7 linked regions of the Homo sapiens genome follow. The protein of the gene in region 6 purifies or fractionates together with the protein of the main gene of each other region. This does not show direct contact. Each region holds a gene or a part of one and is shown on either strand. Other genes may lie near its edges.

Region 1 (3,898 bases), about 14 Mb from region 6:
TGTGTGTGTTATATATATATAGTCCAGTAAATAAAATAAATGCCTTCAACATTAAATAAGTGCCCCCAAATAATCTGATTCAAGTCACTCATCCTCCTGTTCTCTGAATTTTGACAACTTATATAACATCACCTCTAAAAGCATTGCATTTTCTTATCTTTCTAATACAACAAATAAAGGAAATGGTTGCTCACTTCTATGTGAGGCACACAAAAAGATAAATGGCAAGTAACATGAAGGGAGAAAATCAGGCTGACTTTGATCTGTCAGAAAAAAGAAGCTTTCAGAGCAAAATTCATCAAAGGCATTTAATTCCTATTCTACAGATTAAGTATGAGTAGAAGCAACGCAAAAGGGCCCCGTAGACCTGGAAGATGAGGCTTAGCTCATGTAAAAATGCAGCATCCTCATAACTGCTTTAATTATATTTTCCACAGATATTCATGAAAATAGAAGGCAAAGAGAAGGGATATTAAAACAAAGGTATATTAAGCTTTGAATATTCCAGTAAAAGGCACCAAATAAACATAATGTATTAATATATTAGCTCAACTAGTTATTTTAATTCAGTCAGATTCACCCATAATCCAAAGCACTCTAGTTTGTAGGGGGTGGTTCTGATATGCATACATACTTACTGAAAAAAGTTAACATGAAAATCCCATCATTTCCTATCCTCAGCTGGTCAGCATCATCAAAATCATCCCGACCCACAAAATCCTCATCCTAAATGAAAAGAAAAAGAATTATTTCTAGGCAAAGGGAAGACATAAAGAAAAATGAAGGGTTAAATTTGAGTAGCAAGGAAAAAAGTTATTGCTTTGGTTCAGTTCAAAATTATGAGCATTAAAGGCTCAATGTGTGTTTAAAATTCCATTTTGCATTATTAATATATAATTAGAAAAGAAGCAAATCTTTCTTCTATCCCCAGTGTTCTAAATGAAATTTTCATCTTATAACCCAAGTTCTTTAACAATACACTTCAAAAATTTAATACACTTCAAAAACAATACACTTCAAGAATAGTTCACAAAGAACTATTTACTCTTCCTTTAAAAAAATATACCTCAAGAAAAGACAAAAGACAAAATTTACTTACACATTTGGTTTAAATTCTAGAATATCAGTAATCGAGGACCTGTTTAGGACCTAAAATATTAGTAATTAGAGATAAAATCAGCCAGGTGCAGTGGCTCATGCCTGTAATCCCAGCACTTTGGGAGGCCAAGGCAGGCAGATCACGAGGTCAGGAGATCGAGACCATCCTGGCTAACATGGTGAAACCCGTCTCTACTAAAAATACAAAAAAATTAGCCGGGAGTGGTGGCGGGCACCTGTAGTCCCAGCTACTCGGGAGGCTAAGGCAGGAGAATGGCATGAACCCGGGAGGCAGAGCTTGCAGTGAGCCAAGATCCCACCACTGCACTCCAGCCTGGGCAACAGAGTGAGACTCCGTCTCAAAAAAAAAAAGATAAAATCAACCAGCTCAAGTGCTTTACGAGGCTGATATAGGGGAAAAAAGAATAGTACGATCATACATGAATAGTCCACAGAACTGCCCACTGCTCAACTCCATAAGCATGTATTTGTATTGGTATACAGATCTAAATCTCACTTCTAACCTTATCAGCAGATAAGATCTTTTCCATCCTAACTTGATAACGTAATATTGCAAAACTAGAAATAACATGATCATGAACAATACCAACACATGTGGGCTATCTTTTTAACTGATATAGGTGTGTGTTGAGATATTTAAAAATAATTGAATATATACTTAAAAGTGATAGATTTGTACACAGTTCAATGAGGGCTCCTTAAATGAAAAATATTTTAGGGAATATCAAAACTTGTTGTACACAGAAAAGGGTCTGGAAGACCCAAATTGTTAACAGTGGTTCCCCTGGGGAGTGGGAACTAGAGAAAGGGAAGTCGGTGGCAATGGCAGCTTCCTTTTCTAACTTAACATACTTCCTCTATTGTTTGAAATTTCTATAAAAACGAATTTTTATAATTAATTTTTTAAAACATTAAATACCTAGTATTCTTACTTCGTATCAGCAGAATAAGGTTTTGCCAAAATTAAAAGCTAATTGTTTTTTGCATAACTATTCAAAGATATACTCCAAAAAATATATGGAAGTAACATCTAATAATATTACGAACACCTTCTAACTGTTCTTCCTGTCCTCTTGGTATCTCTTCTACCATGATGCATCCTAGAAATTGCTGCCAAGTTAATGTTTCCAAAACACCACACAAGTCCTCTCATACCCCTGCTCAAAAACTCTGAAGGATTCTCTAAAAGCTACATATGAAGTTTAAATACGCCCATCTAACATTCCAAAGATTCTATAAACAACAGTTGTAGTCAGGACTTTCTATCTCCCTTCACAAACTCTTGCTCATACAAAGCCAATTACTACATCCACAGAACTGCCTTCACCTGGCTGAATTCACACCTGCTTTCTGTGCCTTTTTCCCTCTGGAATGTTCTTACCCATCAAAACTCCGGGCCCACATCAAATCTCATTTTCCCCTATGATCACCCAGTAAAAAGTTTCAGTTCTTGATGCCCACTGCTCTTATGTGTCTTAGTTATCAGTATTTGTGGGCCCTTTACCCTAGTTGGATTTTAGGCTTTTGAATAACAATGAGGAACACTGCCTTATACAAAGCTTTTTACCTATCCACTGTAAAATATACTGCATCTTATATTTAAAAAGTGCTTTATACATGTCTGCTGAATACTAGAGCCCTTTAAGAAGTTCCTAAATATGTACTTGTATCAAATGAAAGTATTCTGAAGAGTTATGTGATTAATCAGAGCTAATTTCCATACTGATCTATTTACCATATATTGCAACAGATCTGCAGAGTACAGTGAAACAAACAAGGACTTTGGATTCTAGAATATCTGGGTTTGACTTTCACTTCTGCTACTTATCAGTCATATGACTTTGGGAAAATTACTTTTTCTCTCTGGACCTAAATTTTCACATCTGTAAAATGGAGATAATATAATCTCTACCTTTCAAGGTTACTATGAAGATTGGAAACAATATACAAAATATATAAAAGCATCAAGCACAGTACCAAGCATGTGGTTTGCTTCCAATATACGGCAGTTACATTATGATGGTCTTGCCCTTAGACACTAGGGTTTTTAGTTTCTCCCTGGTACCTGTAAGAACTGAATGCACATCATCGCCATTTAGGATCATCCTAGATTGGGCTCATAAACTATTTCTACCAAGCAATGATTTTAGGAGCTTCGCTCCTCACAGTAGGTGTGGTCTGCAAACTGTCTACTATCTTAAAGCCAAGAGGGGAACATCTGGGCCTATGCCATCACACTGCCCAGACTAGGCTTCTGTACTTGCTCATCACTCACTCCAGTTACTTGCTAGAATAGAGCCTAGAGGCCTGATGGTCCCCGCATTTCTGGGGACTTATCCTGCTTCCATTCTCCCACAATGCCCTACCTTCATCAGCCTCAATCTGGATGAATATTTACAAAATGACAAATGCAGCACTCACATATCTGACATCAAGAACCAAGAGTGCCCAATAATCTCCACTGGTTTATATGGCATCCCAATCTCCACCTCCATGAATCAACATCAGGCTAGATGGAATCTGAACTCACTATGTCCCCACAAATGACATGATCTGGACTGCTGGAAGAACGGAGTTCATCTAAATCAATGTGAAGATCCCTCTTATGAGTTTAATTCTACAAATTTGCATATATTTATTCTCTTCCTAGACCTCCCTAGCAGCTATCCACCCAACAGCAAAATATTAAGTGTGCAGAATCAAGGAAACATTAGTGTGCTTCTGCTTCAAGATACTTCAGCCATCCCAGGAGACTTGAAAAAGTAGTGGTAATAGGAGA
Region 2 (4,628 bases), on a different chromosome or scaffold from region 6:
TGACCTCAGGTGATCCACCTGCCTCAGCCTCCCAAAGTGCTGGGATTACCGGTGTGAGCCACTGCGCCCAGCCGATTATATACATTCAATAAATTAAATTTAAATATATTAAATTTGGTCAGGCACAGTGGCAGCAGTCTGAGAGTCCAAGGCAGGAGGATGGCTTGAGGCCAGGAGTTTGAGACCAGCCTAGACAACGCAGTGAGACCCCATCTCTACAGAATTAAAATAAAAATATTAGCTAGGCATGTAGTGAGTGCCTGTAATCCTAGCTACTCAGGAGGTTAAGACAGGAGGAATGCCTCAGCCCAGGAGTTCGAGACTGCACTGAGCCAAGATCGCACCACTGCACTCCAGCCTGGGCGACAGAGCCTCACTCTGAATACATAATAAATAAATAAATATAAAATATTAAATTTAATATCTCCCATTTCTGTTTATTTTTTAATGTGGCTACTAGAAAATTTAAAATTGCATATGTGGCTTGTGTTATTTATCTGTTTGGCAGCACCCCTTTTTGTTTGTTTGTTTGTTTGTTTGTTCGTTTTTGAGACGGAGTTATGCCTTGTTGCCCAGGCTGCAGTACAATGACACAATCTCAGCTCACCGTAATCTCCACCTCCAAGGTTCAAGTGATTCTCCTGCCTCAGCCTCCCAAGTAGCTGGGATTACAGGCATGCGCCACCATGCCCTGCTAATTTTGTATTTTTAGTAGAGATGGGGTTTCTCCATGTTGGCCAGGCTGGTCTCAAACTCCTGACCTCAGGTGATCCGCCCACCTTGGCCTCCCAAAGTGCTGAGATTACAGGTGTGAGCCACCTCGCCCGGCCTCTGGGGGGCCTTTTATCTCATACTTTGCACATGATATTAACTCGATTGCTCTCAAAGACAGTGCACTTAGGTCGGGTGTGGTTGCTCACGCCTGTAATCCCAGCACTTTGGGAGGTGGAGACAGGTAGATTGCTTGAGCCCAGGAATTGGAGACCACCGTGGGCAACATGGCGAAACTCCGTCTCTACAAAAAACACAAAATATTAGCTGGGCGCTGTGGTGTGCGCCTATAGTCGCAGCCACTGGGGAGGCTGAGGTGCTTGAGCCCAGAAGGCAGAGGTTGCAGTGAGCGATGATTGCAACACTGCACTCCAGCGACAGAGCTAAGACTCTGTCTCAAAAAAAAAAAAAAAAAAAAAAAAAAAAGAGGCAGCACACAGACTCCAAGGTTCTAAGCCCAGCTCATTCCCTAACTCGTTCCATGGGCTTGCACAAGAAGTCACTCAACCTCCTCGGGCCTCAGTTTCCATATAAATAAAACGGGAAAAGTAAGATAACTGTGAAGATGAAATGACAGCACAGTGCCAGGCACACAGTTCAAGCTTAATGACTGTGTTCCCCAGAGCAGCACCCCCAAGAGCTCCCCTGCACTCACTGGGGTCACAGTCATTGATGTCCTGATCGCAGGAAGGGCCAGTGTACCCTCCATGGCAGGTGCAGCTGAAACTCCCTGCCAGGTTGGTGCAGATACCATGAGGGCCACAGGGTGCGGGGCCAGCACACTCGTCCACATCCTGCTGGCATCGTGGGCCTGGGGGTAGGGAGCAAGGTTACACCTAGGGTTACAGGGTACAGAGCAGGGTCTCAGGGACCTGGGGCTCAGGAAGAACCTGCAGGCCGAGATGGGTGAAGGCAAAATAAGCCGTGCTGTCATTCGTGTCTGGGCATTTTGCATATGCAGTTTCAGAATGGCCGTCTCCCTGTCTCAGTAGGTGGCAAATACCTACTATGAGGTCTGCTCCTCCAGGAAGCTGTACCCTAAACCCCGCCCTAAGTCCCAGCATCTCTAGCCCCATAACTCTTCCTCTTCCAAGGGCTGACCCACACAGGCTGCATATCAGTGTCCAGCTCTGTCCTTCCAAGAAGGAAGCCCCTCTCAAAGGCAGGGCTGGGGATGGGTCCCTCTCTGGATCCCCAGCATCATCCCTGATAGGGTAGGGGGCAGAGGAGATGGAGAGGAGGAGGGAAGAGAAGCAGGTGGCATACCTTGCCAGCCCTGGGGGCAGGAGCAGACAGGCAGCTGGCCAGGGGCAGACTCGCAGCGGCCCCCATGCTCACAGGGGTTCGGGGTGCAGGGGGAGAGGAGTTCACACTGACGTCCTGTTGGGGGTGGAAGAGAGGGAAGCAGAGATAGCCTTGAGGGACTCCCTGATCCCATCTCCCCCCACCTCCCCCAACCCCAGGGTCCCCACCTTGATACCCACCTCCCAAGCTCCTGGAGGGAAATGATTGAAAGCAAAAAAGAAGCTAACATAGCGGGAGGAGAGAGTAGAGGAGAAGAGAGATGAGAAGGCCCATGGTGTTGGTGGGGCTGCAGAGGGAAGGTGAGGTACACACCCTGGACACCAGGCGGGCAGGTGCAGTGGAAACCCATTCCATCGCTGCTGCATGTCCCACCGGCCCTGCACGGCTGGGACTCACAGGCGTCTCGGGCCAGGCTCTGGCTGCAGCGGGGGCCACTCCAGCCAGGCTCACACACACAGCGGAACCTGGCAGGGGAAGGTAGTCAGGCCAGGGAGGTGGGCCAGGGAGAGGGGGCAGTGTCTGAGGCTGAGAAGGGCCCTCACCCGCCAGGTGCATCATAGCAGATGCCGTGACTGCAGGGCTCATGGGCACAGGGATGGCTCGGGGGGAGGCAGAGTGGGGGCAAGGAGCCAGGCGGGCAGAGGCAGCGGAAGCCATTTTCCCCATCCACACAGGAACCTCCCTCGCCGCATGGGCTGGAAGCACACTCATTGATCTCCACGTTACAAAGGGGCCCTGGGGAGTACACAAGCAATCTCATCTCAGAACAAAGTCAGCAGGGACAACCAGGGAGGGACGACGTGACCCCACTTAGCACACCCACACCCCCGAGCAATGACCTCTTTTTCATAACGCATCAGCTCTTGTGCAGATTAGGACACCCGCCTCCTCAACCAAGAGCTGACTTGCCCCAGATCATTCTGGTCCCCAAACTTCCATGAAGTCCCTTTCTTTTTCTTTTCTTCTTCTTCTTATTTTTTGAGATGGGGTCTCACTCTGTCGCCCGGGCTGGACTGCAGTGGCATGATCATAGCTCACCACAGCCTCCACTTCCTGGGCTCAAGCGATTCTCCCACCTCAGCCTCCCGAGTGGCTGGGACTACAGTTGCGCACCACCACGTCTGGCTAATTGTGTGTGCATGTGTGTGCGTGTTTATCTACGTATTGACTAATCTGGCTTTGGGAGTGTGTTTATTTTTTGTAGAGACAGGGTTTCATTATGTTGCCCAGGCTAGTCTCGAACTCCTGGGCTCAAGTGATCCTCATGTCTCAGCCTCCCAAAGTGCTGGGGGATTACAGACATGAGCCAACACACCTAGCAAAGTCACATTCATTTCCACTAAGGATTAGTTTAGACCCATTCAGAAATAACCTAGTCACTGAGTTTGGACACTTTCATCTATGTTCCAGAATAATCTTTTTGTTTGTTTTTGTATGTGTGTGTGTGTGTGTGTGTGTGTGTGTGTGTGTGTGTGTTTGAAATGAAGTCTCACTCTGTCGCCCAGACTGGAGTACAGTGGCACAATCTTGGCTCACTGCCGCCTCCGCCTCCTGAGGTCAAGCAATTCTCCTGCCTCAGCCTCCCGAGTAGCTAGGACTACAGGCGCCCACCACCACACCCGACTAATTTTTGTATTTTTAGTAGAGATGGGGCTTCGCAACGTTGGCCACGCTGGTCTCGAACTCCTGACCTCAAGTGATCCACTTGCCTTGGCCTCCCAGAGCGCTGGGATTACAGGCGTGAGCCACCGCGCCCAGCCTGCAGAATAATCTCGAAACAACCTTATGCCAATGAGACAGCACAGACTCAGGGCAAAGCACGGACAACCTCGTTGGACAAGAGTCTGCAAAGATACGGGCAAAACAGGCCCACAGAGACGAGTGACTTCACCCTCGATCTAAGGACCCCCTCTCATGGCAGCCACTTGCCCACCTGTGAAGCCAGGTTGGCAGACACAGTCGTAGCGGTTGATGCCATCACGGCAGACTCCAAAGGTGCAGGGGTTGCTGGCACAGTCGTCAATGTTCACTTCGCAGTTCACACCTAGGGGCCAGGAACATGGCATGGAGTGGCCACCACTGTGCCCCACTAGATGCACCATTCCCAAACCCTCTGTGCCCCTCCAGGTGTGCTGTTTCTGCCCCAGCCCCCGGTCCCACCTGTGGTCCCAGAAGGGCAGCGGCAGAGGTACTTGTCCACCAGGTCTAGGCATTTGCCGCCATGGCGGCAGGGCTGGCTGCGGCATTCGTCCACCTGGCTCTCGCAGCGTGTGCCCGTGTAGCCAGGAGCACAGGCACATGAGAAGCTGGCGATGCCATCCACGCAGCGACCATGGTGGCATGGGTCAGGGGAGCAGTCGTCCACGTTGCGATCACACAGCGTGCCCTCAAAGCCTGTGGGGCCAAGAGGGTCAGGCTCCGCCCACTTGCCAGGGGCCTGCCCACAAGTGAGGCCTCGGACCAATCCTGGTTCAGCTCTATCTGAGGCCCTGCCCATCAAGCTGTCAGGAGGCGAGCTCAATACAGGCCCCACCCCCCACCCCCCACTTACT
Region 3 (4,628 bases), on a different chromosome or scaffold from region 6:
ATCCTGAGAAGTTACTTGGGGACAGATTGTAAAGCGATAGACTAAGAATTTGGACTTTGTCCTGAGGATTTGGGGATCGTATTAGGATTATCCAGAGGGACAGAACCAATAGGATATATGTATATATAAAAAGGGGGTTTATTAGGGAGAATTAGCTCACAAGATTACACAGTGAAGTCCCATGATAGGCCACCTGCAAGCTGGGGAAAGGGAAGGTGGTAGTGGCTCAGTCCAAGTTCAAAAGCCTCAAAACCAGGGAAGCCAACAGCGCAGCCTTCAGTCGGCAGCCGAAGGCCTGAGAGCCCCAGGCAAGCTGCTGGTGCAGGTTTCAGAGTCCAAAGGCCGAAGAATCTGGAGTCTGATGTCCAAAGGCAGGAATTAAGGAGGCAAGCATCTGACGCAGGAAAGAGAGAGCCAGAAAACTCAGCAAGCTGCTTATACGCCTATTCTGTGCTTTGTTCTAGCTGCATTGGCAGCTGATTGGATGGTGCTTGCCCATATTGAGGGTGGGTCTTCCTCTCCCAGTCCACTGACTCAAATGTTTGGCTCCTCACAGACGATACTTTGCCATCCATTTGACACTTAATATTGACCATCATAGGGAGCTACCCAAAGTTTTTGAGGAGAGAAACACGAATGTTTGTCTTGGAGCAGTGAAAGAGATTGCCAAGACCAGAAGACTGGAAGCTTCTAATAAAAGGCCATGAGAAATGGGAGGGCCTGGACTAAGATAGTGAGAATAGAGAGGAAATAACAGGTTTAGGAGTTAGAATGGTAATGATTTTTTCTCTTTTTATCATGCCCCAGCACTGAGTGGATAGAATGGTAATGATTATAGGGGTAGTGTCTTTGTTTGGGTTGCTATAGTAAAATACAAATAGGGTAATTTACAAATAGAAATGTATTGACCACAGTTCTAGAGGACAGGAAGTCCAAGATTAAGGCAGCCACGGATTCAGGAAGCCCAAGATCAAGGTGCCAAGAGCCCTGGGGAGGGGTTGCTCTCTGCTTCAAAGATGGCGCCTTCTTGCTGCATCCTCACGCAGTGGAAGGTGGAAGGGAGCTCATTCAAGCCTCTTTTATAAGGGCACTGATCTCATTTATGAGGGGGGGAACCCTCATGGCTTAATTACTTCCCAAAGGAAAGCAGGGAACTATTGGGGGACACCAACATTTAGACCATAGCGGGGTGCAAGTCAAAAGTAAGAGTTAATAAAAAGGCCAAGTGTGGTGGCTCACACCTGTAATCCTAGCACACTGGGAGTGCACTTGGGAGGATTGCTTGAGGCTAAGAGTTCAAGACCAACCTGGCCAACATAGCGAGACCCTGTTGATTTTTATTTTAAAATTTAAAAAATATTAAAAAGAGAAAAGAGTTAATAAAGAAATAATAGTGGCTAATACTTATTGAGTGCTCTCTGTGCGTCAGGCAGTGTCATGAGGACTTGCATGTGTAGTGACTCATTTAGTATTCCTGACAGAGCTACGAAGCAGGTGCTATTATTAGTCTCCTTTTTAGATGTGGAAACTGAGGCATGAGAGATGAAGTAACTTGCTCTCAGCTAGAAAGCGGTAAAACTTGTGCTTGAATCCAGGCAGTTTGCCCTTAGGAGCCTGACCTTAACCACAGCTCTTACTGCCTTTGGTCACAGTTGATCCCCCGTATGTCCTGATAATCTCTTCTAATTAGCCCAGGTCTTTGATGATGCCCATAATTGAATTAGAAAATACTGCAGAAACAGGTTTGGGGCACTCATTCATTCATCTAGCAAATGTTTGCTGAGTGACAACCATGAGATAGTGTTGAGTGCTGGGATTACAAAGACAAGAGGTGTAAAGGTAATGGGTCCAATGACGTCTAGTGGAGAAGAGATAAGTAAGAGACCATCACAGGATAGTTTGATAGAAGAGGCAAGCACAGAATGCTTTGAAAAACATGGAGGGTGGCACAATCCAGATTAGGGGTATCCAGAAAGGCCCTGTGGTGGGAATTGCCCCTTCTGAGCATGAAAGAATGCACAGACATTAGCTAAGGGAAGAGCAGATCTCAAGGCTCCAACATCTGCTGACTGAGAATGAGCTAGAGGCAGAGGGGTCTTGAAGAGAACAGGAGTAATCTGAATTGTACCATGAGTTATGGTAAACTAAACAGGAAGCAATCTAGGCATTGAATAAAAGACTTGGCCAGGCGCGGTGGCTCATGCCTGTAATCCCAGCACTTTGGGAGGCTGAGGCAGGCGGATCACCTGGGGTTGGGAGTTTGAGACCAGTTTGGCTAACATGGCGAAACCCCATCTCTACTAAAAATACAAAAATTAGCCGGGCATAGTGGCGCGTGCCTTTAATCCTAGCTACTCAGGAGGCTGAGACAGGAGAATCGATTGAACCCAGGGGGCAGAAGTTGCAATGAGCCGAGATTGAGCCACTGCACTCCAGCCTCGGCGACAGAGCGAGATTCCATCTCAAAAACAAACAAACAAACAAAACAACAAAAACAGTTGCAGAGCAGTGTTGAATACCTGCTACTGGAAATTGAGGAGCCCACTCCAGAGCTAGGTTACACCCTAGATTACTGTCCTTATCTTTGTAATCTTAGCAATCAACAGCCATCTCTTACATCATTTGTCCTACTACCTACTTCCAAAATAAAGAGCTCTCATTCTGTGTAGCCAAAACCTATTCATGAATCCTTCATTTCTGTCTCATTGTAGTGCAGTTAGCTGACCTAAATTTTTTGGCATTGTCTTCTATGCTTTTCATTTGCTGATTTGTTATGTGCTTCCCATGAACCATATTCTTTTTTTCTTTTTTTTAACATGTGATGAGAACACTTAAGATCTACACTCTTAGCAAATTAAAAGTATATACAATGCAGTATATATCCATATTTTTGAGACGAAGTCTCTCTGTCGCCCAGGCTGGAGTGCAGTGGCGCAATCTCGGCTCACTGCAACCTCCACCTCCTGGGTCCAAGTGATTCTCCTGCCTCAGCCTCCCGAGTAGCTGGAATTGCAGCTTGCGGCCAAGAGTTCAAGACTAGCCTGGGGCCGGGCACTGTGGCTAATGCCTGTAATCCCACCACTTTGGGAGGCCGAGGTGGGTAGATCACCTGAGGTCAGGAGTTTGAGACCAGCATGGCCAACACAGTGAAACCCTCCCTCTACTGAAAATACAAAAATTAGCTGGATGTGTGCCGGGCACGGTGGCTCATGCCTGTAATCCCAGCACTTTGGGAGGCCGAGGCAGGCGGATCACCTGAGGTCAGGAGTTCGCGACCAGCCTGACCAACATAGAGAAACCCCATCTCTACTAAAAATTAAAAATAAAAAATTAGCCGGGTGTGGTGGTGCATGCCTGTAATCCCAGCTACCCCAGGAGGCTGAGGCAGGAGAATTGCTGGAACCCGGGAGGTGGAGGTTTCGGCGAGCCAAGGTTGTGCCAGTGCACTCCAGCCTGGGCAACAAGAGTGAAACTCTATCTCAAAAAAAAAAAAAAAAAAAATTAGCTGGGTGTGGTGGTGCACACCTGTAGTCCCAGCTACTCAGGAGGCTGAGGCAGGAGAATTGCTCGAACCTGGGAGGCAGAGGTTGCAGTGAGCCAAGATTGCGCCGCTGCACTCCAGCCTGGGCAACAGAGCGAGACTGTCTCAAAAACAAAAAACAAAACACAAACAAACAAGACCAGCCTGGGCAACATAGTGAGACCGTGTTGCTACAGTTTTTAAAAAATTAATTAATTTTTTAATTAATTAAATTAAATTAATAATTAATTTTTAAAAAATTGGATTCAGGTAGGCAATGTGTTCTCTTGCCTTTAATTTGTATGTGGTTAAAAAGCTCTGTAGTTTAGTAGATTTGTCTTAGAAACATAATCTAGAAAGTGGTGATTATAGGTTGCTTGTTTTTCTGCACCCCAGGGTTCCTTGGATATCACCCAGAGTATTGAAGACGACCCACTTCTGGATGCCCAGCTTCTCCCACACCACTCATTACAAGCTCACTTTAGACCCCGATTCCATCCTCTTCCTACAGTCATCATAGTGAATCTTCTGTGGTTTATTCATGTAAGTTGGCTGCAAGAAGGGGACCTATCCAGAGGTGATGTTTGTAAAAATTATATAAGTGTTTCAGAGGGCAGTTGTGCTGTATCTATCAACATTTAAAATGTAGGGCACATGTTCTTAGGACATCCTGAGTGCTGTGTCATGGGCAAAAAAAAAAAAAAAAAAGTACGTACACTTTTACTTATATCTTCAAATAATTCATTGTGGATATATTTGCACACATGTAAAGATATTGTTGATAATAGCCATGTTGTCTGTCATATCAAGAGACTACAAACTACCTGGCTACTTGGCATCCAGAAGACACTGTGTGTCCCATTCATATAAGGAAATGCTATGCAACTGTTAAGAATGGGGTGGATAGGTATACAGTATATTAACATAGAATAGCCTTCATGATTACATTGTCGAGTGAAAAAAAATCAAGTTTTCAACCTTGTGTACAGAATGTTCCTATCTGCAGTTTTTAAAAGGGAGTTGAGAGGGCTGTTGTGGACCTGTTTTCCTGTATATAATAGAATATTTCTAGAAGCATTCACAGACCTAGTTGCCTCTGAAATGAGGA
Region 4 (4,628 bases), on a different chromosome or scaffold from region 6:
TGGCAAAAAACGTGGAAACAAAGGGAATGCCTGTTAATAGGGGTATTGTTATGTAAATTATGGCCGAGGCATTTTATGGAATGTTGTGAAGTGATTAAATGGTAGGAGTTAAATCTACTGGTGATTAGAAAGGATTTCCAAGTACATTCTGAAAGGATTTCTATCATGTGTCTTTTTTTTTTTTTTTTTCCTGAGACAGGATCTTGCTCTGTTACCCAGATTGGAGTGTACTGGTGCTGTCTTGGCTCACTGCAACTTCCTCCTCTTAGGTTTAAGCTATCCTCCCGCCTCAGCCTCCAGAGTAGCTGGGGCTACAGGTGTGCACCACCACACCTGGCTAATTTTTTGTATATTTGGTAGAGACGGGGTTTCACCTTATTGCCCAGGCCATCATGTATCTTAAGAAAAAAAAATACAAAGTACAGAGAAACATTTGTAATGATAACTCATTTTTTATAAAACCAGTTGAAAAACACCATGAGTTTTGTATATTTTTACCTGGTTGTCACCGTTGGAAAGAGGAAATAAGCAGAAAAGGAAAGAGACAGAATATCCATAGTAACATATTTATATAAAACTACATGTTTGTACATGTCTGTGTATATGATGGATTATGGGAAACAATGGGCACTAAGATGATTTACTTTCTTCCTTACACTTTACATTATATGTTTTTATTTTTACAGTGGACATGAAGTGTTTCTGTAATTAGGAAAAACAGGCTGGGCATGGTGGCTCACGCCTGTAATCCCAGCACTTTGGGAGGCTGAGGCAGGTAGATCGCTTGAGCCCGGTGTTGGAGACCATCCTGGGCAACATGGCAAGACCCCCCTCTACCAGTAAAAACTAAAAATTAAAAAAATTATTTGGGCACGATGGCATGCACCTGTAGTCCCAGCTACTCAAGAGGCTGAGGTGGGAGGATCACTTGATCCCGGGGCATTCAAGGTTTCAGTGAACTGCGAATGTGCCACTGCACTCCAGCCTGGGCGTCAGAGCGACACCCTGTCTCAAAAGTAAGAAAAAAAAAAAGAAAAGAAAAATGTACCAAAAAATGATAGGGACTACTAGATAGGATTACAAATTTGGCATGTTATTTTTGGTATGGATAGTCAGTGCTATCGACACGCTTTCTGCCTTAGAGTGTAGAGCACATTGCACAAGTGTGGGATCTGTCACCTGACTTAATCATATGACAGAATCATAAGAAAAGTCCCTATTTGGGTTTTGGCATATAAACTGGATTACAAGATTAACTTGCCTTAAGAAAACTTTAAACAAGAACTTCTTTAAAGAAGCAAAATAAAAAGTACTTATAATTGTTTAATACTTGATTTCTGTCCTTTTAAAAGTATCTCCGTAGAATACATCATTCAAAGCCTAGACAGAAAATAGCAGATGCTTTAGAGTTGGATTTGTTGCATACTTAAAGTAGCTGTATTTTTTTCTCACATTGGTATTACTTCCCCTTTTCATTACCAGTTTTATTAATTGCATATATGTGCTTTAATGTAAGCTGTCCAAAGTTTTTTTTACAAGAGTTGGGATATATGTAAATAAAAATAATTTTAGAGTAGTATTAATATAACAAAGAGATGAAGGAAACCAGACTGTGTGAGTCAAATCCTGGCTCTGCTTCCTAGTGGTGTGACTTTGGAGGAGTTACTTGTGTCTTTTTGCATTGCATTTTTCTCAACTTTAAAATAAGGATAATAAGAGTATTTAACTTCATTGGATGTTGTGAATAATAGAAGCGATTGGAATAATAACTAGCACATAAGGACCGTATATATATTTGCCAGCTGGGTGCAGTGGCTCACACCTGTAATCCCAGCACTTTGGGAGGCCGATGCAGGCGGATTGCTTGAGCCCAGGAATTGAAGGGCAACATGGCAAAACCATGTCTGTACAAAAAAAAAAAAAAAAAAAATTAGCCAGGCGTGGTGGCACACACATCTAGTTCCCGCTATTCGGGAGGCTGAGGTGGGAGGATTGCTTGAGCCTGGGAGGCAGAGGTTGCAGTGAGCTGAGATCGTGCCACTGCAGACCCTGGGTGACAGAGCCAGACCCTGTCTCAGAAAAATATATATGTAATAATAATATGTGCTATTATTTGCTCAGTCAATTAGGTGCAATATATAATAGTTTTACTTGGCTCAGTTGTTTTAACATTCATTTACTCATCCAACAATATTTTTAATTCAGTTGAATGGGTAATACATGTACAAATATGGTAAAATTTATATATTCATACAAGTGTGTTTTCTCTCCCCTCATCCTTATTCTTTTCTTCCCCCATATATTTATCCACAAATGGTAGCACCTCTTCGTATTATTCTGGACCTTACATTTTTCGCTTGAGTATTACGTTGGAGATCTTTTCACATTGATACAGTTAAAACTGCCTCATTCTTTTTAATGATAGTTTAGTATTCAATTGTATTAATATACCCTCATCATCATATGTAACATTTATTGAGAGCTTACTCCTGATCCAAATGCTTTCTTAATACTTTAGTTTTATTAACTCATGGAAGCCTCATAACAACCTATGAGATAGGCACTATTTTTCTATATTTAACAAATGAGGAAAACTAGGCACGGGATGATTAAATGTCCAACAGTCACACAGTTTATAAGTGGTAGGGCTCAGGATTAGAGCCCAGGGAGTCACTTTCCAGAGATTGCTGCCATAATACCGCTAAACATGTAGCCTGTCATAGTATTACAAGGTATTTAACCAGCCTCCATATTAATGGACATTCCAATCTTTTGCTTAAGAAACAGTGCTATAGTTAATATTTTGTTAATAGAACATTTTGTACATCTACAATAAATTCCTAGAAATGGACTAGCCATGTCAAAGGTAAGTACAATTTGAATTTTGGTGGGCACTGCCAAATTGCTCTCCAATTTAGGGATGTTCAGAAGTTCACCTTTGTCCTTAGTAATTTGCCAAAATCTGCCATTTAGCTTGGGTCTTTGGAAGGTGTGCTTTTAACATTTCTAGCATCCCTGAATTGTGTGTGATCTACCATCATGTAATAGCTTAAGTTACTATCATATGGAATTAATGTAACAATGTCAGTATGAGAGGTGTGACCTTTGGACTTACTACTTTCAAATAACAGTAAGTATTTTAGATATAACTTGAAATACTCCTTAATGTGATTTATACATTGAAATTCTATCAATCGAAGTTTGAATAGATATTGTTGAAAAAGTAAAATGCTGTAATTGTTAATAATTGTGAAGTTGCTGATTTTATGTACCAAAGCAATTATGTAAGAGTGTTCAAATAGTTAAATAGTGAATCAGATTGCATTTGAACATTAAGAGTGTGGTAGCTAGCTAAATAGAGGAATAGCTGGGTCCTTTCTTGTGAAAAGTGAGTTTTTGATAATCCGTGAGTCCTAGTCGTAGGTAATGCAAAATGAGGTAGCGAGGAGCTTTATTTAGATGAGTTATAAAATCCACAAATTATTTTGAATATAACACACTTGGTTTCAGTGCCCAATATTTCACTTGTTCAAGAAAGGAAAAAGTATCTCTATGAATCTAAGAAGCAGATTGACTGACACCAAACTCTTCAATGTGATCCAAAATAGACACTTAAAATACAGAATCTTCTCAGGTCCCAACGTAGTATACCTGCAGTGCCTGAATATGGCCCTGTAGTACCTGCTTATTGTACAGTGGGGCGTGTGTGTGTGTTTTAAATATCACCTCATTCTCCCTAAGGTACTCTACTGGGTATAGGGACAGCTTGGAAAGTAGCTGTAAATAGAGATAAACAGGCTGTCAGAAACAGTTATTTATTGTGAGCTAATTCTACCTCAGAGTAGTATAAAGCAACAGAAAATAACTTTCCCTATACCTCCACCCTCCAAATGAGCCATTGAGCCATATCAACTTTGATGTCCAAATTATTAGAGCTTAATCTGAGTCTTGGACAACAAACCCTTCTATGCCTCATGGCACGAAAGTGTGTTCAAGATGGAGTTAATATTTTCCTAAATTCTCATTCAACATATTGTAAGCTGATATGCCATTAGCCCCATTCTGAAAATATAGATGAATAAAGTACTTAAGAGGCATATCTGACTTCTACACTCCTGAGCTATTAAGTGACTGTGGAAATTCCCAGAATTAGTTAAACTTGGCAGGACCAGAGAGTGCCCACACAGCCTTATCCAGAGCCACATATATTTATTCTAAATAGACAGACAAAAAACTGGTTTGGCTAAGTTTTCATCTGTTGCCCCTATGCTGTTTCTAGGGTTAAAATTCTCTTAACAAATTTGCATAGGTCAAATAGTCCTTTAGAAATACTATATTAGTTGGCTGGGCCTGGTGGCTCACGCCTGTAATCCCAGCACTTTGGGAGGCCAAGGTGGGTGGATCACGAGGTCAAGAGATTGAGACCATCCTGGCCAACATGGTGAAACCCCATCTCTACTGAAAATACAAAAATTAGCTGGGCGTGGTGGTGTGCACCTGTAGTCCCAGCTACTCAGGAGGCTGAGGGAGGAGAATCACTTGAACCTAGGAGGCAGAGGTTGCAGTGAGCTGAGATCACACCCACTGCACTCCAGCCTGGCGATAGAGTGAGACTCTGTCTCAAAAAA
Region 5 (4,628 bases), on a different chromosome or scaffold from region 6:
ATGAAGCCCCATGGTCTAATGTGCAGGCCATGGTCTAATAATTCAGAAGATTTCATTAGTCTAGGCACAGCTCAGGCACCTAGTCTAAAGGTTACACCTTTCTAATTTGCCTGAGATTCTGGTTAAACTTGGTATGATGATGTTATCTCAATAAGGTCTTCAATAAGCCTCAATAAAGTCCAAGAGGCTTTTAGATTTTGATTCCTCTTTCCACCCTTAGATTTAGCTCATGTTGGGATTTAATGGATTTCAGTTTGAGTCTTCATTTGAGAAAAAACCTTATGTTTTTCCTCTGCAATAATTTATCCCCCCAAAACAACACAAAATTTGAGGTAACTGCAAGCTTGGGGTCTGAGTCAAAGGGTCCCAGTGGGGAGTTAAGGGTTTAGTGTCCAGTGGTCAAGGACGTCTTGGCTAGTGCCATCTGAAGCTAAATAAAAGCCTGATTATTTCACATCAATGAAGTTAAGATTCTGCCTCCAATGGGCTCATGTGAGTTTGCACAAAGCCATTCTGAATCAAGACAATTCTCTACACACAATGCAAGTGCAGAGATGGCAACTGATTCAGACTTCACTCCAGTGAGCATGTGTGATCACGCAAACTCAAGTTCAACCAGAGCTTATACTTCTCTCTTCGGTCAACTAAAGGGGATCCTATGTCAATTACATGACCTTGCCTGCAAGGGGAGTGGTGGCCTACTGTGTCAGAAAGCATACAGAATACAAAGCCTTCTGACTCTCTGGGCCCAAAGTCACCCACTTATTATACAATCAATGAAACTGAAAATTACAGAAGATTTTAGCAACCAATCTCTTAGAACTTCTAGATACTAACCCTCTGGCAGAACTGAAAGTATTAATTCTTAACAGTCTCCAACACTCCAGTTTTTTTTTTTATTTTTTTAAGATGGCATCTTGCTCTGTTGCCCAGGCTTGAGTACAGTGGCACGATCTCGGCTCACTGCAAGCTCTGCCTCCCAGGTTCACGCCATTTTCCTGCCTCAGCCTTCCAAGTAGCTGGGACTACAGGCGACCGCCACCACGCCCGGCTAATTTTTTGTATTTTTAGTAGAGACGGGGTTTCATCATGTTAGCCAGGATGGTCTCGCTCTCCTGACCTTGTGATCCACCCGCCTCGGCCTCCCAAAGTGCTGGGATTACAGGCGTGAGCGACTGCACCCAGCCAACACTCCAGTTTTTATTATACAGTAATTCTCTGAAATGCAGACCCATTAAAAGAAGACAAAAACCCTCCTTGTCACAGGATGGTAACCAGACACTTCACAACTGAGCACTTTTACGACACCCAATAAAGACTAACATGATAAACCAAACACTTAAGTGACATCAGATATGATTTTCAAGAGAGACTCTCCAATAAATGGAATAATCTAGCTACAAGTTATCTTAAGTCAAGTCACCTCCACCATCTGCCCTGGATCCATGCTACCTGTTAACTACTCTCCTGTCATTCCTAAGGGAGGAAAGTGGGGAGGTCAGGATCTGTGGGTATGTGCTGGTTCTAGAACAGGATTTAGCGAGTCAGTTCCTTCATCTGTACTATCCAGACCCCCTTTGGAAGTCCAGGGATGAAAGAGGTAGGCTTCACAGGGTCACCAAGGACTGGGCCTTTGTGTGCGCTTCAGGCCTGCTGGGTCTCAGCAGCCATTTGGAAGTGTTAACTGCTATGGCTAAAGAGTGGCAAGCCTGATGGAGAGGCACTGATGATTCTCCTCAGGAAGGTCACCTAAAAGGAGTCTCCTCCTCATGTTTCTCTTGATTAGTTTTATAGTTTTTAAGCAAAACTGACTCCATAAAGCCCACTTCACTCTCACCTCTGGCTGGATGCACCTCCATCTCCGTGCAGAGGGCATGAGATGTGGAGTTAAGATGCTTCTGGGTCAAATTCTGTCCTTGCAACTTGAGCAAGGTTCAGACCTTTAAGGAACCTCAGCTTCCTCCTCTGGGCTGTTGTGACAACTGAGCAAGACTGTATACGGGAAGAGTTTAGAAAGGGCTCAGGATATATAATATATACAATTGTGCTGTAATTAGTTTTTATCTATCCAACCTTCCTGTTAAACTAAGTGCACCAATATCTGCCTCATTACTGTCTTCCAGGTGTCTGATATACTGAAGGTGCTGTAAAAACGCAGCTCATCAAGGCAGGCCTGGATCTGGGAAGTCACAACTTCCATAAAGTCAAGGTTGGTGGACTAGGTCTATATGCAGATCCTAAAAACCCACTGGTAGACTTTTCAAATATTCTTCATGAAGATCAAACTACAAGCTTCTGAAAGGCCTTCTCTTTTACCGCTAAACAATTCTCACTGCAAAGGTTTTGACATTTAACCGAAGGACATTCAACTGCCATAAAGTTGGTGCTTTTTCCAAAACAACAATAAAATCCTGCTATTTGTAGTTAACAAGCCAGATTTGTTTTTTAGTAACTATTACGCAAATTTTTTTTAGTATTTGTAGTTAATAAACCAGATTTGTTTAGTAACTATTACACAAATGAATTATATTTTAGTATATATATAGGCGCATTGTGGAAAATAGGGGAAAAGCAGGTTGGGGGTGGGAGAGCACCATAATCCCATCACCAATTTGTCTGTATTTTCTTCTAGGCTTTTCTTATGGTTTAAAAATAATTTTTAAGCTAGCTGTAATTGTAATAACACAATGTAACTGTGCATACTGCTTTTCCCCATTTTAAACTGTAACAGACTTCATGTATTACTGATTTTTTAAAGTCTCTAATAAAAAAGAAAATGGAATTGAGATTTGGAAGAATTAACTTGTTTAACAAATTAATATTGCAAACCATTTCACATTTAAAAGACAAAATGATGATTGTCTAATTCTCTTACTTTTTAAGTACTATTTGGCAGGACTATTTAAATTACTGAGCTTTTTTTAGATTTGGGGGAAATATTAAAATTTTGTATAGCTGTTTTCCTGTTACAAAAATAATGCATGCTCATTATACAACATTTAGAGAAAATTTCAATAATTTAATGTTAACATTTATTGAATGTGGACTATGCACCAGGCACTATTCCAAATGCTATATACATAGATTAGCTCATTTATTCCTCACAACACTTATTGAAGCATAGATTAAGTAACTTGCTCACAGTCTACTCACCTAGAAGTATGAGCCAGAAATCATTATGTTATGTTCTAGGAGTGAAACGAATCAATAATTTACTCAATCAAATGCTTCAGTTGTTTCAGAGCATAATGTCATAGGCAAGAAACAATTAATAATCACACTGTACCCTTTATAGTTATTTAAAATTATTATAAACCACATCTCTGTGTCCCAGTGGAGCAATTAGTAAAATGAGAAATCATCTGTGGCATGAGCTAAGATCCTGGTTCAGCCCAATTCTGTGCACCTGACGTGCATTAGGACAAAAACAAGAAGCTTTAAAGGGTTTGTTTTAAAGATGGAGGCTTTTTTTTTTTTTTTTTTTGAGACAGAGTTTTTGCTCTTGTTGCCCAGGCTGGAGTGCAATGGCACGATCTCGATTCACCGCAACCTCCGCCTCCTGGGTTCAAGTGATTCTCCTGCCTCAGCATCCCGAGTAGCTGGGACTTCAGGCATGCGCCATCACGCCTGGTTTATTTTGTATTTTTAGTAGAGATGGGGTTTCTCCATGTGGGTCAGGCTGGTCTTGAACTCCCGACCTCAGGTGATCCGCCCACCTTGGCCTCCCAAAGTGCTGGGATTATAGGTGTGAGCCACAGCGCCTGGCAAGATGAAGGCATTTAAAAAATTTTTTAGATTTTAGGAAATGAGTCAACAATGTGATGAGTAGATTTCCTGAATTAACTGAACACCCAATCTCATGAAAGTTTACAAATAAAACAACGACTCACAATCAGCCTAACACTTCTTATGGCTTATCTGTTGGCCTTGGACATCAGCACATGCAAAAGTAAATAACCGGATACCCTTGGGTCACATGTTTTCATACTTTGATTAAGAATTACACTTGGTTAAAGATGAATACTTCTGTTCCTGGCTTAATTTCTTACCTAGGGCTAATAAACACAACTATTTGAAATATAAATTCTCTTTAAATGTAAAGGATAATGCAATGTTTCTGACTGTCAAAATTACTATGCAACTGTAACTTTAGCACTAAAAGCATATTAAAACTATTAATCCTTTAATCATAATTATTCATATTGCTGTGGTAGAAACATCACACATACACACACACAAACACACACACACCAGTTACTTTCTGTAGAATTTGAAATTGCTCTATCTAGCATTTCCGGAAGGTTCAAGCTGCCACCCTGCAATTTATCCAGTAGCCTGCTGCTTGAACAAGCTAGATAAATATCTAATAATTTTGACCATGTACTGCGTGTTAAGTCCAGTTTAAGTGTTTTCCAAAGACAAAGTTTTCATATACTTTCTGTAAAGCCCTACAGATAGAGACCATTATTATCCCCATCTTATAAATCAGACTGAAAAAGGTTAAATAGCTAATATTTTCATCTAAGTCTGTCTGACTCCAAAGCCAACACCCCAAATCACTGTTAAACAAGCTTCTCTTCCAAGTTAGGGCTCAGAAAAATTTACTTGCTTTCACAACTTGCCTTCCT
Region 6 (4,628 bases):
GCAAGTGAAGAGCTATTTACAGGAGAGAGATGAGAGGAGGCAAAGGAGTAAAAGCCTGAAGTCACATGCATGTTTAGAGCATAGGGAAAAGTGTACTGAAACACTGGGGGAAACAGAAGAATAGAAAGGGAATGAGAGGACAGACTGTCAAGGGCCTTGACTGCTACATTATAACAATTAGATTTTCTATGGCAGGTAGCAGAGAAGTCGTTTAACTATTTTGGGTAGAGGAATCATATGGTCAAAACTCTGCTTTCTGAAAAATAAAACTGGGTTTCAATGCTTCTGAGTACCCATGTCTTACCTTTGACCCATAATGTGTACAATATACATATTAATTAGGTTGAAGATTATGCATATTATGTACTCTGTACAATATACATGTTACAGGTCAAAGACAAAACAAGAGTACTTAGAGAGCAGGAGAGAAATACTGAAACAAGAACTAGAATCGTGACAGTATAGATGGAAAGAATTGGATGGATGACAATGGCATCCTGCATTTTGTTGTCTAGAAGTCTACAACAAAATTTATCTCATATATAAATATGTAACGTTTGTGCATTTTCTCCCTGATTAAAAGAAAGAAGTTGCTTAACACTTTAATGTTACAAGTATTTAAGAAGGACCTTCTAAAATGCTAGTATGTTAAAAAAAATTATATCTAAGTAAAATTAAGTATTTACTAGTTAAACATGAAGACTAAAGAGAACAAGGTTATATTTAAAATTTTTAACTTCAGTAAAGAACAAAGCAAGATAATAGACATTTTCTGGATTGTCTAATTTTTATCCTATCAAATTTATACTGTAGCAATGAAGTGCTAATAGATTCATGCCCTTCAATGTGAAATAAACTTACGCTCTCCGGTCATGGTCTATTCTGTTTATCTTTCCACCAATGAATACTCTGATCTTACAGTCTTTCCATTTTTTCTTGGTCGTCAGAAGGTAAGGTATCAATAAGGTCAAACCTGAATTATAAAAATGTAATAAATCATTTACTAAATGCAAATTTCTTAATCAGGAACATCAATTTAGTCTCGAAAAACATGTTTACTACAACTCCATATGAAACAAAAATCTTTCTGTCCTTCCTTGATAATTCAGTCAAAAAGCCATTAGCAGACCTGAGAAACAAGGGACTCCTAACGGAGTCTGATCCCATTCAAGGAAGGTAGCCAAATGGGATAGTGGCCTGGTAAGGTCGAGATCAGTCACATACAACAGGATTGAGAAAATAAGTATAATTATTGACCTTAGCAGGAGCCATGTTTAACACTGAAATTAGAAATATGAAAAGGGAGAAGCTGGACTGAAATTGCTTTTTGATCTCCATTTATATCTCCACAGACACACACACAAGGAGTTCCTGGCTCTGTCCATGGAGAAGGCCTGGGAGCAGTGACACTCCAGTAGACACAAGCATATCCAATGCCCTGATCTTTGTTTCTAAACACTATGATTCAGTAAAAGGAACCAGCATTCCTTGGAAAGGGTTACTTTCGTGGCTGTGAAGGGAAAGTGCAAAACAATAAAACTGAGCCTGGAACATCTTCTTGTATTAGAAAATAACCCAAAAGAATGGGCTGGGCGTGGTGGCTCACACCTGTAATCCCAGCACTTTGGGAGGCCGAGGTGGGTGGATCACGAGGTCAGGAGATCGAGACCATCCTGGCTAACACGATGAAACCCCATCTCTACTAAAAATACTAAAAAATTAGCTGGGCATGGTGGCAGGTGCCTGTAGTCCCAGCTACTCGGGAGGCTGAGGCAGGAGAATGGTGTGAACCCGGGAGGCGGAGCTTTCAGTGGGCCGAGATTGCGCCACTGTACTCCAGCCTGGGTGGCAGAAAAAGACTCAGTCGCAAAAAAAAAAAAAAAAAAAAAAAAAAAAAAAAAAAAAAAGGAACGATTGGGACATGATAAATGGAAACAAATGAGCCTAAGGAGGATTCTGCTGGCGAAATATAGGACAATTGGAACATCAAAACAAATGAAAGTAACAAATTATATCCTGGAATAGTTCGGATATCAGCCCCTACCCAAATCTCACGGTGAACTGTAATTAATCCCCAGTGCTGGAGGTGGAGCTTAGTGGGAGGTGTTTGGATCATGGGGGTCAGTCCCTCAAGGTTTGGTGCTTGTCTTTGTGATAGTTCTCATGAGACCGGGTGATTTAAAAGTGTGTGGCATCTCTGTCTCCTCTCTATGACTCTCTCACTCTTGCTTTCATCATGTGATGTGCCTGTTCCTGCTTTGCCTTCTGCCATAAGTAAAAGCTCCCTGAGGCTTCTCTAGAAGCTGAGTGATGTCAGGACCATGCTTGTGTGGTCTGCAGAATCATCAGCAGATTAAACCTCTTTTCTTTAGAAACTACCCAGTCTCAGGTATTCCTTCAAAGCAACACAAGAACAGTCTAATACATATCCCACTGAATATCAATAAAATAGGAATCAATGAGTCCACACTGACAGAAATAAAGAGCTCTTCCTTACAATAAAATGCCAACTAATAAATGAGGAAGAAATGATGGAATAGGAGAATCATCATTTGGCAACCACAACAATAACAATACATTCAGGCAGAAACATCAATGGATCCTAAAGATAGTGGTGAAGGCTGCAAGAATAGTGTATTTACATAGTCTCAGAGTAATCCCTCTGTGCCATCCCCAATACCTGTAATTATAAAAGGGGGTGGGGTAACTTTTCAGTGAATACATGTGGTGAAAATCATATATTACTCAATGGTTAATTTCACCAGTGAAGGTACAAATCAACATCCTGTGCCACCTGATGAGATGTAGACAGAAGAGCACAGCATCACTTCTGTGATATTTCTGCCAAAGGTAGATAACCTAAAACTAATTATAATAAAACATTAACTAGCACTTCAAATTGGGTTACAGTCAACAAAATGGTTCATATTAAAAAAAAGTTAAGGTCATGAAGCTCAAGGAAATACTACTGAACAACCTCCGCATTAGGGATACTGAAGAGACCAGACAACTAAAGGCTGTGCCTGATTCTGAAATTAATCCTTTTGCTTTTGGGAATGCTGGCAAAATTTGAATGGGGTCCACAGGTAAAGAGTGCATGTCATTTCTTACTATTCTCACAATGTCAGTAAATTTAAAATCATTTTAAAAAAATTAACAACCTTACCTCCATCATCAAAAAGCCACCAGACATCAATAGTATTCTTTCCTTGTTTTTTCTGAAACTGTGTACTAGCTTCAAGAAGCTTTTGGTCAGCTACATTTAAAGGCACAATAGGGCCTTTGGATTCTAAAGGATTAAGCAAAATATAAAATGTAAGCAAAGTAAATATTAAAGTCCCTTTTGCTGAATTCCTATCATTTCCTAATGTTTGTATATTCAGATGTTTATACTACAGATAATTCAGACAATTGTATACGGCATCTACCATAAACTTTCAGTTGTTTATAATAAAAGTATACTTTATAAATGGCTAGAGAGAAATAACTCTTTACAATAGCTAAACCAATCCAAATTATCTGCCTACTTACTAATATTTTCAAGCATTCTGAATGAATGTAAGAGAATCATAAATAACAATAAAAAAAATTACAGTGAGCTGCTAGATTTTGTTTTGAAAAGCTGTTTTAGTCAAACTGGACAAATCAAGTTTATACCTGTTCTGTGAAACTATTTCTTTGGTAATCTGGTATCTCAATAATTTAAAGCTCAAAACTTTTTAAAAGACAAAGTTGTTATCTGCAATATAAATGAAAGATGGGAGTTGAAGACATACTAACACATTCTTACAATTATCACAGTGAAACCTTAGTCTAAGGAAAGACTTCTCATTTTTACCTATGTTTTGTCCCCAATATGTGGCACCCAATTCTAAAGCCATATAACCACATCTTTCTCTGAACCACAGAAAGATGGTGGGAGCTCCTTCAAAGGGCACCCATCTGCTGCAGGTCTGAGAACAATACACCAAGGAGTTCCCATTTATATTCCCAGGAGTTAAAACAAAACAAAAAACAGCATTGATTCTGTGAGCAAGCAAATGACTATCATGAAACTCCTACACCAAAATTTTAAAAGCAGAAATCCATACGAGGACATCTGATCACTTCTGTAGAATGTCACTTTTCATGCTGCTGTGATATATGCAAACATGACAAATGATTTTGCACGATGAAATAATATGGCTACCAAACCACACTGCTCCATAACTCTCACCTCTATCTCCTTCTCATAAAATTCATGTATGTTGACATGACTGTGTATCTCCCAAACGCAGCACGACTGTGAGAAATATTGTAATTTTTGAAATGAAAAATACATTAGTATCAAAATTGAGGACTTGGCTGGGTACAACTGATGGTAAAGAATGCAAGTGACACTGCAAATAAAACCTATTTCAGTGTCCCTACTTATCATCTAAACCATGCAGTTTAAATTAAAAAAAATTAATACCGGCTGTCTGGGTCTAATATTTCAGAAATGCTGTGATAATAGAAAAGAATTTGTGATATAACTCCATTTCCTGAGAATATTTAACTTTTTAGTTAGACTAATAATAATTTTTCTAATCTGCATTTATAGAACTGTAACATTACCTCACCATGGAAATAAAAACCAAGGTTAAAAA
Region 7 (4,346 bases), on a different chromosome or scaffold from region 6:
GGTGGTTATGTGCTTCCCTTCAGGTGGCCTGCTCTGGGGAGCTATGCCAGGATGGGTGCCCTCAGCTGGAGCCAGGACCATACCAAACATCTCATTGTACTGGGTCTCATTCACCTCCATGCGGTTCATCCAATCTGCTGGGACTGGGACTGGATGGAGCCTACTCAAGCTTCCAGCACTGCCACTGCCTGGAGACACAATGTGGTGGTGGGATAGCAACTGGCTCACTGAGGGAAGCACAGTGCTGGCCCCATGTGCCAAAGGCTGCATTTCATGAAGGTTAGAAAAAGATAGTGCATGCTGGGCATGGACTGGGGCAGGAGGGGCGGCAGTGGCCAACATAGGGTTGGGTGAGGCCTGTAAGATCCCAGGGGATGTAATCATTGGAGAGGATGTGGTGTCGGAAACATACGTGTGAGGAGATTCTAGGGAATCAACAGGGGATAAAGTTACTGAACTCTCAGACAGTTGGACCTTCTCACTCAGAGACTTCTTCCTCCTACTACCCTTGGCATCCTTTGCCTCCTTGGCAAGGTTAGGGAGGCTAGTAGGCATGGTACTCTTGGCACTGGGCCGTCTAGACTTCTTGCCCATTGGGGTGTGCTTCAGGCTGAGGAAAGATCTGTTGGGCCCACAGATGACAGGTGAGAGAGCAGAAGTCAACACGGTGCCTGGAGGGCTTGGGGTCACATTGTATTCATCCAGAAGGCGCACAATGTCATGGTGCATGCGATCCCGAGCCACATCCCGGGGAAGACGATCCATATGGTCTGTGATGTCTCGATTGGCAAAATGGTCTAACAGGATCTTGGCTGCTTCATAGCTCCCCTCCCGGGCAGCAAGAAACAGAGGTGTCTCTTCCTACAGAAAAGGCCCATCACAGAACACATGTTAATAACACTCTTGAGAATATAGCAGTTTTTCTCAATCTTTTTTATTATCACCCCCTTAGACATGTTTTCCTAATTATCTCCCCGATGAAATATTAACACCACAGATAGGCTGTGCCTCTACCAATGTACTGAATGTGTATCTGTGATTTACACATAAAAAAAGTAAGATTATTTCACCTCTCCTCAAAAAAACAATTTTGCCCCTTAGGGGGAACATCTCTTTAGTTGGGAATTCATAAAATAAAGCATGCCCCTGAGCCAGAGACTCACTTAAAAGAGTACTGAGCTTATCAAAATAAGGTTAAGGAAAAGGAGTTAGAAATAAGAAAGGTAGGAATAGGAGTTAGAAATAAGAAATAATAGGAAAAGGAGTTAGAAATAAGAAAGGTAGGAAGAGAAAAAACTAAGGCATGCACAGAACTGGGAAAAGTAAGGGAAACAGTGAAAGAAGAGACAAAACATGTGCAAGAAAGGACTAAGATAAGGAAAACAAAGAAAACTGAGAGAAGATGAATGAGAGAAGGAAGCAGGACAAAAAACTCAGATGGAGAAAAATCAAACAGGAAAACATCAGGGTATCCAAGGACAGAAAAAAAAGCAGCCGGAGGGAAAAAAGAAAGAAAACGAGAAAAAGAAGTGATTATGAACAGAAGAGACAACTGGAGAAAAGGAAATGTCAGGGAAGAGAAAGAGTTACACCAAGCTATCTATAGCCAGCCTACTGCAAGCTGAGTACTGAGAGGGCAGAGAACTCCATCCTGACACATGCCTGGACAAGCCCAATATCCTCATCAAGCTCTCGAAACCCAGTGTCTGCCCAAACTGCTTCCATCTTTGTCTATACATATAACAAGAGAAGCTGTAAGGAGAAACGGGAATGGGCTTATAACTGAGGCACTGCTATGAGCCTCCTCAAGCTCAGAGCCCACAAACTGTACCTTGTTGTCCTGCATGTCTCGGTTGGCCCCATTTTTCAACAACAAAAGAGTTGCCTCCACATTATTGACAGCAGCTGCCCAGTGAAGAGCAGATTTTCCTGCAGGGGAGAAACATTTTTATAAACAGACATATCCTACTCTTAGTATAAGACACTATGACTTGCACAATGAAATCTTAAACTCCCCAGAGATCAGCAGGAAGCAGTTCTCTGTAGGGGTCTATAGGAAAAACCAAAGTAATCTCTTCTTTTTCCTCTGTTCTAGAAATACTTCAGTACAGGCTGCCTAGCCTGCAGAAGACCTCTAGGTGAAAGGATCACTTGTATGAGGCATTCATGTCCCCTACATGGCAGAATCTACCCTGTTACATACTGAAGATAAAAACCTATATATTACATGTCAGAATTTATATTGAGAATATTCTACAACTCTCCTAGAGAAGTCAGCTCTCATAAATCCTCAAATCAAGTGTTATGCCTAGGAAACTACATGGGAACACCTTTCATGTATCTGCTCTGAGGTCCAAGAACCCTCATTAAAAATCCCTCATTTTAATTAGGGATCTCCTACTGGCTTGGATCTCTGAGCTCAGCATGTTAAATAAATGCATGAATGAAAGAATGAGTGAATCTCTCACGTATTTGGATCTCAGGCAGTTCTCTAAGGGTCACGTAACTCTATTCCCCTCGTCAGAGGCATGCTTTGCAGGTAAGAATCCAAATCCCTGCCTTTCATCCCTACCATGGTCATCCACTGCATTCACATCCGCTTGGCAGTTGATCAGTTCTGCCACCATTCCCTCCACAGCCAGGCGGGCAGCCAGGATCAGGGGTGTAGTACCATCATTCATCCTGGCATCTAGATCAGTTACTCGGTTGCGAATCAGAATCTAGAAGAGGAGAAAGTACAGAAAAGAGAGTCACCTGGATGAAGGAAAATAATGAAACTCAGTGAAGAAACAAGGGCATCAGAGCTGAGGCTACAGTGTAGATTCCTGGAGGAGAGGGAAAGTCTTGTTATCTTTGTGCCCAAGATTCTATCATGATCAATCAATAAATATTTGTTGCATGAATAAATAAATACATGCTCAATAAATAATGGCTGATGTAAAGTGATGAGCCTTCTACTTTCTCAGGAAAGAAGAGGGATGTGGGGAAATATCACAACTTCAGTCAGGATACAGCCTAAGGTGATTCAGAATGCTTCCAATTTCCTCATAAGGATAAACAGGCATCAGGGAATATAATATGAACTCAGGTCAAGAAAACTGCCAATGAGCAGCTAGAAGCCCATACAGTCAGGCCAATCCATAAGAAGTAGCGGATACTAGTCAAAGGCTCCGGACCAGCTATCACTCTCATCTAATCTACGCATTTGGGAGGCATCTTGGCACAACAAATTATCACTAATAATCAGAAAGACTGGTGTTGTCTGCAGTTGGCTCTATCACTATCTTCCTATATATAGCTAGGTCAATTTGCCTGCCTCCCTTTTCCCACTTTCCCATCTACCAAGCATGACTCTAATACCTGCCCTAATCTCTCAAATGATTGAATAAATTCAATGAGATATTAATTCTTTAAAAACGATAAAACATTATAGAGCCATAGGAATTATTATTCAAGTGACTCTTCTCATGTTCTTTACCTGGAAGACACCTTGGGCATCAGCTGCCACTGCAGCATGGAGTGGACAGCGGCCCATGTTGTCCTGGGCATTGGCATCTGCACCTGCATCCAGGAGACGCTTGGCAGCATCAGCCCGTGAGTAGCGGGCTGCAAGGTGCAGGGCCATCTCACCAGTCCGGTCTGTCTGGGCCTGGAGGCTGGCACCCTGGTAGACCAAGTCTGTGATGATGTTAGCAGAAGAGTCCTCTGCATCTTCATCTTCATCACTCAAATCTGAGCTGCCTCCTCGGAGAGAAGCCAACATCAATGGGGTGCAGCCATCTGTAGGAATGGAAAATTCCATAAAGTACTCAAGAAGGAGAAGGTAGTTAACCCTATGGTTGAAACAGCTCTATTTGACTAAAGTTATTCTTAGGGGCAAAGAATTCCCTGTACTTCTTGTAGTAACTGGTTATTAGTTTCACATTTGCCACCTTTTCCTCTGATAGTATCATTTCTGTAAAGAATAATGGGAAAGTACAAGTCTTTTTAAGCTGGGGGCTCTTCTCTAAACACGTTTTTCTGTTCAAGTTTAAGTGCTGTTATTTTAATTGGACATTTAAAAATATCTAATATTAATAGAACAATTAATACATGCATAAGATACTAACTATCCTCTGCTTTGGGATATTATTTTTCTATCCCACTACAATCTAACCCATTTTATCAGCCTGTTTAGTCTCAACACACTGTACATGAAGCAATGTGAAATCCTTCCCTTTCTGAGCTGATAATTTCTTTGTGGCTACATTCCTTAAGCATTCATTTCCTCGAGCTGATTTAGAGTCTGTGAAATTGGGAAGGGGTTTATGACTGGACAGGGCAAACACAGGGACAACAATGTGGAA

Evidence for each region.
Region 1: the proteins of SLC12A2 (region 6) and NDFIP1 purify together in Homo sapiens (affinity purification with mass spectrometry; one large-scale study listed by BioGRID and IntAct). This does not show direct contact.
Region 2: the proteins of SLC12A2 (region 6) and NOTCH3 purify together in Homo sapiens (affinity purification with mass spectrometry; one large-scale study listed by BioGRID and IntAct). This does not show direct contact.
Region 3: the proteins of SLC12A2 (region 6) and TMEM192 purify together in Homo sapiens (affinity purification with mass spectrometry; one large-scale study listed by BioGRID and IntAct). This does not show direct contact.
Region 4: the proteins of SLC12A2 (region 6) and ATP6V1A purify together in Homo sapiens (affinity purification with mass spectrometry; one large-scale study listed by BioGRID and IntAct). This does not show direct contact.
Region 5: the proteins of SLC12A2 (region 6) and GNG12 fractionate together in Homo sapiens (co-fractionation; one large-scale study listed by BioGRID). This does not show direct contact.
Region 7: the proteins of SLC12A2 (region 6) and NOTCH2 purify together in Homo sapiens (affinity purification with mass spectrometry; one large-scale study listed by BioGRID and IntAct). This does not show direct contact.

Annotation. Positions count from the first base shown.
Region 1 is NC_000005.10:142,132,558-142,136,455, reverse strand, and holds part of NDFIP1 (NEDD4 family-interacting protein 1), read right to left. Parts: intron 727-3,898; coding exon 639-726; intron 1-638. UniProt on the Homo sapiens protein: Activates HECT domain-containing E3 ubiquitin-protein ligases, including NEDD4 and ITCH, and consequently modulates the stability of their targets. As a result, controls many cellular processes.
Region 2 is NC_000019.10:15,182,869-15,187,496, forward strand, and holds part of NOTCH3 (neurogenic locus notch homolog protein 3 precursor), read right to left. Parts: intron 4,471-4,628; coding exon 4,237-4,470; intron 4,121-4,236; coding exon 4,010-4,120; intron 2,812-4,009; coding exon 2,619-2,811; intron 2,541-2,618; coding exon 2,389-2,540; intron 2,152-2,388; coding exon 2,038-2,151; intron 1,583-2,037; coding exon 1,427-1,582; intron 1-1,426. UniProt on the Homo sapiens protein: Functions as a receptor for membrane-bound ligands Jagged1, Jagged2 and Delta1 to regulate cell-fate determination.
Region 3 is NC_000004.12:165,102,385-165,107,012, reverse strand, and holds part of TMEM192 (transmembrane protein 192), read left to right. Parts: intron 1-3,916; coding exon 3,917-4,063; intron 4,064-4,628.
Region 4 is NC_000003.12:113,753,522-113,758,149, forward strand, and holds part of ATP6V1A (V-type proton ATPase catalytic subunit A), read left to right. Parts: intron 1-4,628. UniProt on the Homo sapiens protein: Catalytic subunit of the V1 complex of vacuolar(H+)-ATPase (V-ATPase), a multisubunit enzyme composed of a peripheral complex (V1) that hydrolyzes ATP and a membrane integral complex (V0) that translocates protons.
Region 5 is NC_000001.11:67,826,538-67,831,165, forward strand, and holds part of GNG12 (guanine nucleotide-binding protein G(I)/G(S)/G(O) subunit gamma-12), read right to left. Parts: intron 1-4,628. UniProt on the Homo sapiens protein: Guanine nucleotide-binding proteins (G proteins) are involved as a modulator or transducer in various transmembrane signaling systems.
Region 6 is NC_000005.10:128,177,228-128,181,855, reverse strand, and holds part of SLC12A2 (solute carrier family 12 member 2), read right to left. Parts: intron 4,283-4,628; coding exon of another isoform or gene 4,239-4,282; exon of another isoform or gene 4,217-4,238; intron 3,290-4,216; coding exon 3,167-3,289; intron 974-3,166; coding exon 862-973; intron 1-861. UniProt on the Homo sapiens protein: Cation-chloride cotransporter which mediates the electroneutral transport of chloride, potassium and/or sodium ions across the membrane. Plays a vital role in the regulation of ionic balance and cell volume.
Region 7 is NC_000001.11:119,915,834-119,920,179, forward strand, and holds part of NOTCH2 (neurogenic locus notch homolog protein 2 isoform 1 preproprotein), read right to left. Parts: intron 3,781-4,346; coding exon 3,479-3,780; intron 2,721-3,478; coding exon 2,573-2,720; intron 1,930-2,572; coding exon 1,832-1,929; intron 862-1,831; coding exon 1-861. UniProt on the Homo sapiens protein: Functions as a receptor for membrane-bound ligands Jagged-1 (JAG1), Jagged-2 (JAG2) and Delta-1 (DLL1) to regulate cell-fate determination.